Linked DNA regions of Homo sapiens. The protein of the gene in region 3 purifies or fractionates together with the protein of the main gene of each other region. This does not show direct contact. Each region holds a gene or a part of one and is shown on either strand. Other genes may lie near its edges.

What was found. Proteins that work in one complex are often made in the same cells at the same time.
Region 1: the proteins of TOR3A (region 3) and TOR1AIP1 purify together in Homo sapiens (co-immunoprecipitation; one study listed by IntAct). This does not show direct contact.
Region 2: the proteins of TOR3A (region 3) and RMDN3 purify together in Homo sapiens (affinity purification with mass spectrometry; one large-scale study listed by BioGRID and IntAct). This does not show direct contact.
Region 4: the proteins of TOR3A (region 3) and SLC38A10 purify together in Homo sapiens (co-immunoprecipitation; one large-scale study listed by IntAct). This does not show direct contact.

Annotation. Positions count from the first base shown.
Region 1 is NC_000001.11:179,909,785-179,913,284, reverse strand, and holds part of TOR1AIP1 (torsin-1A-interacting protein 1), read right to left. Parts: intron 1-3,500. UniProt on the Homo sapiens protein: Required for nuclear membrane integrity. Induces TOR1A and TOR1B ATPase activity and is required for their location on the nuclear membrane. Binds to A- and B-type lamins. Possible role in membrane attachment and assembly of the nuclear lamina.
Region 2 is NC_000015.10:40,748,755-40,752,254, reverse strand, and holds part of RMDN3 (regulator of microtubule dynamics protein 3), read left to right. Parts: intron 1-76; coding exon 77-269; intron 270-584; exon of another isoform or gene 585-685; coding exon 686-829; intron 830-3,500.
Region 3 is NC_000001.11:179,092,070-179,094,282, forward strand, and holds part of TOR3A (torsin-3A precursor), read left to right. Parts: intron 1-2,023; coding exon 2,024-2,148; intron 2,149-2,213.
Region 4 is NC_000017.11:81,247,310-81,250,307, reverse strand, and holds part of SLC38A10 (solute carrier family 38 member 10), read left to right. Parts: intron 1-214; coding exon of another isoform or gene 215-238; intron 239-2,998. UniProt on the Homo sapiens protein: Facilitates bidirectional transport of amino acids. May act as a glutamate sensor that regulates glutamate-glutamine cycle and mTOR signaling in the brain. The transport mechanism remains to be elucidated.

The DNA of each region.
Region 1 (3,500 bases), 820 kb from region 3:
ATCTATTTAGAAAATAAATTAAGCCGGGCACAGTGGTTCATGCCTGTAATTCCGACAAATCAAGAGGCTGAGGTGACAGGACAGCTTGAGCACAGGAGTTTAAGGCCAGCCTGGGCAACATTGTGAGACCCCATCTCTAAAAAAAAAAAAAAAAATTAAAAACAAGAAAAGAAATTAAAAATGATCCTAACCCTTCCCTTTCCCTTCCATCTTTCTTAGCATACCAGCAGGTTTTAAAATCTAAGAGAGGAAATGGAAGGACAGGCTTCAGAAGGTGGAGAGGCTGAGTTATCTCATTTGTATGACCTATATTACCAGTATTGCCGTCTATCACTTGCCTGGAGTTTTATAACTTTTGTATATATAAATGAACTTCCTGGTGGATCTTCTTAGCGTTATATCAACAACTTTCATTTGAGAAACACTGGAATAACTGGAGGAATAATATTAGCCCTGCTAAGATTCAGAAATAGCCTTATTTTTGATCATATGACAAAAAACTCCATAATGATGTAGTAAGACAAAATGACAGCAACTGTAAGAGGAATACTGTTTTTCAATTACTAGTTTAGCTTAGGATATTTCATTATTTAGAAGCTTCTAAGTTAGGTTATCGAAGTTACAACTAAAATAACAATAAAAATACCTAACCACATGAAACCCAAATCCATCAGATAATGTTTATTTTGAATACTTCACTCCATGGTTGCAAAGATCAAATGAGATAATATATACAAAAATGCTGTGAAGTGCAATTCTATGATGTTAATGATGAAGGACAGCTAAATAATAATTATGTACCATATATAATATTTATATAATTCATATAACACAAACACATACACAGCAGGGTATATACTGCCAAGGCAGGACATTGTCCAAAGTATAACTGCTATCCTTTTTATCAACATTACTAGAGATGCTAACAACAATTCTAAAAAACATCTTTTTAAAAGAAAAAACTCAGCTGGGCGCAGTGGCTCAAGCCTGTAATCCCAACACTTTGGGAGGTCGAGGTGGGTGGATCACCTGAGGTCAGGAGTTTGAGACCAGCCTGGCCAACATGGTGAAACCCTGTCTCTACTAAAATACAAAAATTAGCTGGGTGTATTGGTGCACCACCAGCTACTTGGGAAGCTGAGGCATGAATGAGAATCGCTTGAACCCAGGAGGCAGAGGTTGCAGTGAGCTGAGATCACGCCACTGCACTCCAGCCTAGGCAACAGAGCAAGACCGTTTCAAAAAAAAGAAAAAAGAAAAAAGAAAAAAAAAAGAAAAAAAAGAAAAAAGAAAAAAAAAAAGAAAAAAAGAAAAAGAAAAAACTCAAGCTTTTCTAGTCTAAAGAGTATGGTGATAATCAATCACTCTACAACCATCAAGAGTAGAGGGCACAAATCCTCCATAGTTGCTATTGATTCTACAGAAAACATTAACAATAAATAAGCCCTGATAATTATGAGATTTTAGACTTTAAAAAATTGTGTTTACACATATAAGCTCATTACAATAATCTAGTTATAGGCACTACTGTCTCTAAAGGCAAGAAAATTGAGGTTCACAAAGGTTAAGTGATTTTACCAAGATTACTCAATTAGTAAGTGGAAGAGCTAGGACTGGAGCTCAAGAGCTTTAACTCCAAATTGTCTTCTTTTCTCTATCTAAATTTCTGAGACAGGTTCCAAAACATTTATATTAGTTCTCTGACCTCTCCATGCACATATATTCTTCTCTATAATCATTGTTTTATCACCTGGCAAACAGGAAAAAGTAAAGACAGTGGTTCCATCTTTCCTAAAAGGTTTGGATGCAGGCAGAAGCCTGAACTGGGACCTGTCTACAGGAAACTGTTGCTAACGTCGGGTGACAATGTTCCATGGGGTAGAATCTATAGCCTAAGGTTCTTGAACACTCAGCTCTAAAAATGACTTTTTTTTCCTCACCAAAGCGGGCAGAAATATATAGTTAAAGAATGAGAGATAAAATGTGGAATGCTAGGAAAACATTTTTTTAATATTCTTGAAGAGGAATCTATTATATAACAGTGTTTGAAAAATCACTGTAGTCTTCCACTTCCATTGAAAATATTTTCTTCTTGCTCATCGTTCTATCTTAAAGTCCTCATGTGGTTGAAAGTCTAAAAGATCCTATTACATGCACACTTCTGGTGTGTTACTGTTACATAACTCTGAAAGCTCAATGTGGTTATCTATATATGGTAGGTGGTTAGCAACCAATGTATAATTCTGTAAGCCATAATAAACATAGTAACTTAAGACAAAGTAGAAATGCAAACAGATAAAATACTAAAAATTAGCTATCAATTTAGCAACTAAAAAGATCTATTTCTGCATTTCTATTAGATGTTCAATATAATTATGTTTCCTTCTCTATTGCAGTGTCTTATTAGAGGAAAAAATTATGCAAAGATTTTCTGATAAGTATGTACTAACTTCACTTATCTGGAAGTCATTTATCTGATATTAATTACTCAGAATGTACAGTTAAGAACTAAGAAATGACACAAGATGCCTCTGAGCTTTTCACATTATATACACTAAAACTCATGCATTTTTACATCCAAGAGTATCTCTTGGGTCTTCAAATTTAATTTTAATGTTTGATCCTGGTTATAAACATAATTCTAATAAGCTGAATAATTAATGTTTGGTTTCCTAACTATAATAGGTCAGGAAGAGCAAATTATAAGAGGAAATGGTTTTCTAATAGCAGGCACATAATCACAGCAATAAGAAATGACAACCAACAGTAAGACAAGGGCAAAAAGTTATTTCGGTTCTAGACTGCTTAAGAACTCACTTACATGTGGGCTAAAAACGTCACTGCTGAGAAAAAATGAATTATGACCACTCCTACTTTACTGATGGAAAAGCAGAGCCACGCATGTCATTTGGTCCAATTACAGTTAATCATCCCATGAGCAAGAGATATAAGATGTGGATTTTTACATTACCTAAATAAAAGTAAGAGAATACCTGATGACCTCAAGACCTATTGTGGTTAGATGAGTAAAGTAGGGAGGTTAAAGGTCACTTAAGGCAGAGAATATGCATGGACTTTAAAAAAATATGGTCGAGATTTAACGTGGACGCATTTCCATAGAAATTATAGAAAGTGAGTTCAAAGTACGATGGTTTTATCACATCAATTTATAGTATTCCTTAAATTCTGTGACATTTAATCCATCCAAAACCTAAACATGAGGCTGGGTGTGGTGGCTCATGCCTGTAATCCCAACACTTTGGGAGGCTGAAGCAGGCGGATCACTTGAGGTCAGCAGTTCAAGACCAACCTGGCCAACATGGCGAAACCCCGTCTCTACTAAAAGTACAAATATTAGCTGGGCATGGTGGCGCATGCATGCAAGTCCCAGCTACTTAGGAGGCTAAGGCACAAGAATGACCTGAATGTGGGAGGCGGAGGCTGCAGTGAGCTGAGATTGTGCCACTGCACTCCAACCTGGGCGACAGAGGGAGACTTCA
Region 2 (3,500 bases), on a different chromosome or scaffold from region 3:
CTTGAATTCTGGGTGTGAGATCTCTTCCCCACCATATTCCTGTGTGTCACTGGCTCCCATTCGTTTCCCCCTTCAGTGATGCTCCTGCGGGCTGTCCCAGGTGGGGCTGGAGATGCCTCAGTGCTGCCCAGCCTTCCACGGGAAGGACAGGAGAAGGTGCTGGACCGCCTGGACTTTGTGCTGACCAGCCTTGTGGCGCTGCGGCGGGAGGTGGAGGAGCTGAGAAGCAGCCTGCGAGGGCTTGCGGGGGAGATTGTTGGGGAGGTCCGGTGAGTAATGCGGCTTCTTCTCCTGCTTTATCCCTCCCCTGCAGCTTTTCAGCTGGGGTGTGTTCTGGCCTTCGCTGTCTGTCTCTAAAGAATAAACCAGTTCTATAGCTTCTAGCCTAATCTGGGTTGAAGCTGTACATTTGGTACCTCGCCTTGCACATGCTCCTTGCTGCTTCTGGACTCTCATGGTTGATCTGTTGTAGCAGCTGAAGCGCTCTGTTTGCCTAACCTAGTCTGTCTGTGCGGGCTGGGCCCAGGAAGCTGCCCTGCTTGCCCTCCTGAGGGTTAGAGACTTAGGATTTTCTCTGCTTTTAGCCCTTTAATGAGGAGCAGTAGTAAGAGGCACCCCATGGTGAGCAGAAAGACAAGCTGGATGGGACCTAATGGTACCCTTCGGGATGGGGCCTGCTTTCCAGATGCCACATGGAAGAGAACCAGAGAGTGGCTCGGCGGCGAAGGTTTCCGTTTGTCCGGGAGAGGAGTGACTCCACTGGCTCCAGCTCTGTCTACTTCACGGCCTCCTCGGGAGCCACGTTCACAGATGCTGAGAGTGAAGGGGGGTGAGTTGTCTCTCTTGGAGGCAGTTATGGCTACAGCCAGGTTGTGTTTTGTAAAAGTATTATCAATGGAAAATTCAAACCAAGCTGCTGCAAATGATTTTTGGAACAGGTAAGAGTATAATAAATACAGAAGAGTTGAAACAAAAAACCCATCCAATTTATGTCATTCAGACAAATGTAGATGTTAATAGCAGTTATTGCTTGCATCTGTTATCTTAGTTTATTACATAGTTATGATATATTATTTGGGCATTTTTCTGTGTTATCACAAGGACTTGATAAGCATTGTTTGACTTTGTTCCTTTCCTTGGGTGGCTGAGCTGGTATACGGAGATGTCTAAGCACGAAGCATGCTCCTCCCTGGGAGTCACCCTCTTCCCACAGGGGAGCCTTGCCTGTGATCCTTTGCATTTTTACAGGTGGGAGGTGGATGTCCTGAGTTCTCAGTGGCCCAGGAGGGCTGACGATAGGCCTTTCTGTGAGGCGGGGCAGCTGGCAGGAGTCTGGTGGACAGCCTCCTCCAAGTCTGGTCATGCTAAGGGTGTTTTGAGTTTAAACCACTAGCACCACTTTGAAACTCTGGTCCCAAGGATAGAGTGTGATGTCAGTAGCAGCATCTGACCCATCTGACCTTATCTGCTGCTAGCTCCAGTTATTCAGGTAGCCTGTGTGAGGCCTAGAGGCCGATTTCTCCTTGTCCAGCCTTTATTCTTCTTAAGGGAAAGACTGGTGTAGAGAACAGCCAAGTTTTATGCTGGATCAGAGGAATTAGCTATAAGCAGGTACATGGAAACTAGAAGTTAAAATCAGTCCAGGTGTGGTGGTGGCTCATGGGTAATCCCAGCACTTTGGGAGGCCGAGACAGGAGGATTGCTTGAGTTCAGGAGCTTGAGACCATCCTGGACAAGGCAGCAAGACCACGTCTCTACATAAAATAACTACCTGGGGGAGGCCAAGGTGGGCGGATCACCTGAGTTCAGGAGTTTGAGACCAGTCTGGCCAACATGTCGAAACCCTGTCTCTACTAAAAATACAAAAATTAGCCAGGTGTGGTGGTGCATGCCTGTAATCCCAGCTAATCGGGAGGCTGAGGCAGGAGAATTGCTGGAACCCAGGAGGCAGAGGTTTCAGTGAGCCGAGATTGCGCCACTGCACTCCAGCCTGTGAGACAGAGTGAGACTCCATCTCAAAGAAAAAAAAAAAAAAAAAAAAAAACGAGCTGGGCATGGTGGCATGGGTCGGTAGTCCCAGCTACTTGGGAGGCCGGGAGTTTGAGGATGCAGTGAGCCATAATTGTGCCACTGCACTCCAGCCTGGGTGACAGAGTGAGACCCTGCCTCAGAAAAATAAAATACAATGTAAATACTAGGTGATAGGAATTTTTCAGCTCCATTATAATCGTATGCACCCACTGATATGCGCAGTCCGTGGTTGACTGAAATGTCATTATCACCAACGCTGGATTTGATGAGTGCTCCGGGGTCTCCAGAAACCTGTGGAGTGGTGGTGAAGAGCTCTCTGCTCTTCCATGGGGGACTGCTGTTGCCTGGGTTGTCAGATCCCTGTTATCTGCATTCTCAAGGGCAAACAGAGGTGGCCCTTTTCTATTCAATTTACCTAAATGGCTCTGGGCCAAGAGATGCTTCCAGAAGTTGTGTTAAAGAGGGGGCAAAAATGAAATTAATATTTGATACATCTGAATTGAAGAGAGAGACCGAGGAAGTAGTTGATAGTGGGCACTGAGATGTAAAGAACATCTCTGCAACCCAAGGAAGCAGGCCACTTGGGTGGGGAATTGATGTTTGAACTCTGTAAGGAGGTTGAACAGAAGGAGAGGTCACAGCTCTGCCCAAAATCAAAGAAAGCTTGAGGCCCTTCACAACTGTTTTTGTTTTTGTTTTGTTTTGTTTTGAGACAGGGTCTCACTCTGTTGCCCAGGCTGGAGTTCCATGGTGCCATCACAGCACAGCAGCCTCAACCTCTTGGGCTCAAGTGGTGCTCCTGCCTCAGCCTTCTGAATAGCTGGGACTACAGGCATGTGCCACCATGCCCAGCCAATTCTATTTATTTTTTTTGTACAGATGGGGTCTCACTGTGTTGCCCAGCCTGTTCTTGAACTCTTGGCCTCAAGCAGTTCTCCCACATCAGCCTCCAAGTGCTGAGATTACAGGTATGAACCACCGCACCTGGTCCTCTTTGTGATGATTTAAAGAAGTTGTACTAGGCCAGGCGCGGTGGCTCAGGCCTGTAATCCCAGCACGTTGGGAGGCCAAGGCAGGTAGATCACCTGAGATCAGGAGTTCAAGACCAGATGGCCAACATGGTGAAACCTCGTCTCTACTAAAAATACAAAAATTAGCCAGGCATGTTGGCAGGCACCGGTAATCCCAGCTACCTAGGAGGCGGAGGCAGAAGAATCACTTGAACCCAGGAGGTGGAGGCTGTAGTGTGCCAAGATGGCACCACTGCACTCCAGCCTCGGTGATAGAGCAGTACTCTGTCTCAAAAAAAAAAAAAATTACTGAGGCTGGGGTGTGGAGGCTCATGCCTATAATCCCAGCACTTTGGGAGGCTGAGGTGGGCAGATCACTTGAGGTCAGGAGTTCGAGACCAGCCCGGCCAACATGGTGAAACCCTGTCTCTACTAAAAATAGAAAAATTAGCTGGGCGT
Region 3 (2,213 bases):
AGACACATTAGCACCTCCCCCTACAATGAGGCACCTAGCTAGACAACTTGGCTGTCCGGGCTTAACCTGCGTGGCAGGGAAGGACGCCTGCCCAGCCTTAGCCTCTACGCAATGGTGGAGGCAGGGAGGGAGAGAACCACACAGCTCCCCTCATTTCCCAGCAGCCCCCATGGAGCCTAGTCAACAGGGTGTGGTCACAGGCTAAATGAGCAAAGATGTGAGCTAATATACTGGTAGGTGTCATGGGGGCTTTCAGAGCTGGGTAAGGAGGGAAAGAGATGGAGATACTGGTTCCCCACTCCTTAACCTGCCACCTGCCTTCCCTGTCCTTTACCCTCCCTCATTCTGCTGGACCTGAGGAAAATGCAAGGGAGGCTAGGCCTAGTGGCTCATGCCTGTCATCCCAACACTTTGGGAGACTGAGGTGGGAGAATCACTTGAGCCTAGGAGTTTGAGACCAGCCTAGGGAACATAGTGAGACCTCGTCTCTACAAAAAAATTTTAAAAATAGGGCCGGGCACACCTGTCATCCTAGCACTTTGGGAGGCGGGCAGATCAGCTGAGGTCAGGAGTTTGAGACCAGCCTGGCCAACATGGTGAAACCCTGTCTCTACTAAAAAAATTAGCTGGGCATTGTGGCATGTGCCTGTAATCCCAGCTACTTGGGAGGCTGAGGCAGGAGAATCTCTTGAATCCGGGAGGCAGAGGCTGCTGTGAGCTGAGATCACGCCACTGCACTCCAGCCTGGGCAACAAGAGTGAAACTCTGTCTCAAGAAAAAAAAAAATAGCTGGGTAGGGTGGCATGTACCTGCAGTCTCAGCTACTTAGGAGGCTGAGGTGAGAGGATCAGCTGAGCCTGGGGAGGTGGAGGCTGCAGTGAGCCAAAATCACGCCACTGTACTCCAATCTGGGTGACAGAATGAGACTGTCTCCAAAAAGAGAGAAAGCACGGGGAAGTGCAAGTGCATTGATGTGGAGCTGGGCAAGGACTTGGTTTAAGGAGCTGGTGGAGCTGGCTGAGGCTGCAGCCCAGGGAGGGGAGGAGAGTGCAGTGAGGTGGGGGAGAAGTATGCCTGGGCCGTGGAGGGCGGAGGAAGGCCAAGTCTCCACTACCTCTGTCCCAGCTTCCCTGCTGGTGGCTCTACGGTTGCATCTTCTCTCCTTATCCCCTTTCTCCCTCCTATCTCTAACCCAAATCACTTTCTGTGCTTCAGACCCGTAATTCCAGTTGCCCAGTGATATCACAACCTGAGAGAGATCACAGGCAAGCAAAAAACACTCAAACGTGTGTAAAACCAAACTTTCATCTCCACCTTTCCGTGTTCCACCTCTGTTAAGGGGGACAGCAAGCAGCTTGAGGCTAACGCTTGTTCTTTGATGACCTCCTTTCACTTCTCACATCCATCAGTTACAGGGTTTTTCAATTGTGCCTCCATAACTAATTCTTAAATCCTCCTTTCCATCCCTTCTCCATGATCCATAAGCTCAAGTCCATGCAAATGGCAGACAAAGCCCTCCTCACCTTAGCCAGCCTTTCATGCCTGTGCTCCTCTGGCGCACCCAGGCCTAGACACTTCCCTTCCTTGCCAAGTGTCTGATGATCACTACTTGGTCTTTATTTGCTCAGAAGCCTCATCCTCCCTCTGAAGCCTTCTCCTTAGAACTCAGTCACTCCTCCATTAGCGCTTGCCACACTGTCCTGGAACCGAATACACGGATGCCCCTCAGACCACACAGAAGAACCATATCTTACCATCTTTTCATGCTCCCTGCACTTAGCACAGTCTCAGTAAGTGTGTGTCAAGAGGGAACAAGAGAGAATGGGTGGCAAAACTGGACAGTGTCTTTTCTGTGCAGACCTTTGGGTTGTGAGGTTGTGACAAGGTCTCCTGGAAGAGAGAGAAGGTCCACGCCCCTCAGCCTCTATTCTTCCAGGCACTAATGCATTGGTTTCAGCGGTGAGATAACATATATGGAAGCTAAATATAAACAAATGGGTTAACAAGCTCTTGTCTCTTTCAGTAATCTCAGGGGCGATATAATCAATGAGGTGGTCCTAAAGTTGCTCAAGGCTGGATGGTCCCGGGAAGAAATTACGATGGAACACCTGGAGCCCCACCTCCAGGCGGAGATTGTGGAGACCATAGGTGAGTAACTGACTCAATATGCCTCTGGTGAGAGCCACAGCTGGTGATAATTAATGTGTTTGTTG
Region 4 (2,998 bases), on a different chromosome or scaffold from region 3:
CGCCCCCTGGGCTCCCGGAGCTCTGAGCCACTTCAGGAGTTCGGGCATGTGGGGTTTTGTCTCCGGTTTTAGTCTGGCCATGTTTGTTGGTTCCAATTCCTATGCTCTGTTACCTGAACCTGTTTGATTCTTTTGATTTTCTTCTTTCTGAAAAAGACTTTTCACGGTTTCCTATTCTGCCTTTCTTCCGTATGCCTCTCAACGGGACGAGCAGCTGAAATTAAAAAGATAGTAGCAGGTACGAACCCAAAGGAGTGTGCTGAAGTCAAGAGCCTGTCTGGCGGGCCACAGACCTGAGCGCAGCCCCTCGGTGGCACACCTGCCCCAGGGACAGCCCTGCATGGGGACACGTGTCAGGCCCCAGACCTGCGCACGCACCCAGGCTCAGCCACAGCCCCTCAGGCAGGGTCCCGATGCCCACTCTGCTCCCTTGTGTTACAAATGCCGTGGTCCTTCTCAGCCCTGCTGTGGCCTTGCCTGTCATCAGAGGGCAGCTGGTCTCTGCAAGCGTCTGAGTGCAGGCTGCTTAGGGCACCAGCCAAGGGGGGACGCTGCCTGCACTGCTGCCTCATGGGCCACCTTGACAGATCTGCATGGGTCTCAACAGGTGGGTGGCTTCGTGCCTTCTGCAGCCCAGTCCCCGTGGTCTTGGTGGGCTCTGGCTGTAGGAACAGCCTGTCTCCTCCACGGTGCTTCACATGTGTCCCACGTGGCTTCTGGCTGGACGTGGCATGGCTCCTTCCCCCCTCCCCCTCTTTTTTCCTCCTCTTCCTCTTCCTTCCTCCCTCCTCTTCCCTCCTCCCTCCTTCTCCCTCCTCTTCTCTCCTCCCTCCTCTTCCCTCCTCCCTCCTCTTCCCTCCCTCCTTCTCCCTCCCTCCTTCTCCCTCCTCTTCCCTCCCTCCTTCATCCTCCTCTTCCCTCCCTCCTGCTCCTCTTCCCTCCCTCCTCCTCCTCTTCCCTCCTTCCTCCTCTTCCCTCCTTCCTCCTCTTCCCTCCTTCCTCCTCTTCCCTCCTTCCTCCTCTTCCCTCCTTCCTCCTCCTCCCTCCTCCTCTTCCCCCACCTTCCTTCTCCCTCCTCCTCTTTCTCCCTCCCTCCTCCCCCTCCCCCTCCTCCCTTCTGTCTCCTCTTTCCTCCTCTTCCCAGCACCAGGCCCAGGGCTAGTCCTTTGAGGAGCAAGTGAGGCCATGGTGCCTGCTCTTTCGGAACCCTGCCCTGGAGTATGGGGAGGTGTCACCAGCACATGGGATCTCGTCCTTGTACCATTGACATTCCGTGGTTGAGCCCCGCAGCACCCAGGGCGAGCACGTGGCCCACGGCCGAGGTGGCTGGTCTGCCACCTGCACTTCCTCCTGTGAAAGGAGGTGTGCGGGAGACCTGCTCTGCCCGTCATGGCCTTTCCCTGCAGGCAGGCGTCTGGCCCGGGGTGCTAGCAGGGAGCAGGGGCTGCTGCTTGAGGGCCGGCCCCATGGCCCTGATCTCCTTGGAGCCAGCCCTGTCCCCCACATCCAGGGGTCTGGGCGAGGCCCAGGGCTGCGTTCCTGGGAGAATGCTGACCCTGCACTTCTCTGGCTGGTCATGGTGTCACCACTGGGGAGGCTGGGCCGGCACGTCAGTCTATGCCTGGCATGCAGGGCCGTCCCTGAGATATTTGCTCTCACCACTCACAAAACATCCTTCTCGCTCCTGGATTGAACTTTTATGCCTCACAGCCCTAACCCATCATTTTTCAAAGCTTCCTATAATAATTTGAAAACATCTTGTAAAAATGACATAAGTCACAGCCGCTTGCGGCAAATAACTGGCCAGTGTTGAAGCGAGTCAGACCGGGTGCTCCTGCACCAAGTGTGTGCCAGCCGTAACCCGGGCAGGCCTGTCCTCTGGCCCTTGCTGCAGGCACCAGCTCTTAACACGGGGTGCACTGGGGCTCCCCATCACGCAGGACCTGCCCAGAATTTCCACAGTGGATGGTGTTCAGGAGCGGTGGTTAGGATGGCTGGCGGGGGCCTCACTGACGCTCCAGCTCCCATGCTCCCCTTAGAAGACAGCTTTTGGCCGGGTGCGGTGGCTCATGCCTGTAATCCCAGCACTTTGCGAGGCTGAGGTGTGCGAATCACGAGGTCAGGAGATCAAGACCATCCTGGCTAACACGGTGAAACCCCATCTCTACTAAAAATACAAAACATTAGCCGGGCGCGGTGGCGGGCGTCTGTAGTCCCAGCTACTCGGGAGGCTGAGGCAGAAGAATGGCGTGAACCCGGGAGGCGGAGCTTGCAGTGAGCTGAGATCGCGCCACTGCACTCCAGCCTGGGTGACAGAGTGAGACTCCCGTCTCAAAAAAAAAAAAAAAAAAAAAAAAGACAGCTTTTGTTTGTTTTTAAAATTCTCATCTCGGAGGAAACTTTCTAGAAGTACCAATATTCTTTTCAAAACATAGCTTACAGTTTTTCTTTTCTTTTTTTCTTTTTTGAGACAGGGTCTTGCTCTGTTGCCCAGGCTGGAGTGCAGTGGTGTGATCACGGCTCACTGCAGCCTCGACCTCCTGGGCTCAAATGATCCTCTGGCCTCTGCCCCCCGAGTAGCTGGGAGTACAGACGCCTCTCACCATACCCTGATCATTTTTATTTTTTTGTTTTTTTTGTTTTTGTGGAGATGGGGGTCTTGCTATGTTTCCCAGGCTGGTCTCTAACTCCTGGGCTCAAGCGATCTGCCTGCCTCCGCCTCCCAAATTGCTGGGATTACAGGCGTGAGCCGCCGTGCCCAGGCTTATTTTCTTACGTGCTTGTCCTAGAACAACTGAATGTGTAAAGTGGAAAAAACAAAAACAAAACCCCACCCAGCCCAGATAACCATCTCTGACATTCTGGCACATTCCTTTTGACTGTTGCTCTGGACACTCACTTCCATGGGCAACGAGCAGGCTTGCTGGGGTCCTGCCGGGTGCGCCTGGGGCACAGCCAGTGGGAGAACTGATGCGGCACAGTGGCTGGCTGTGCGGGA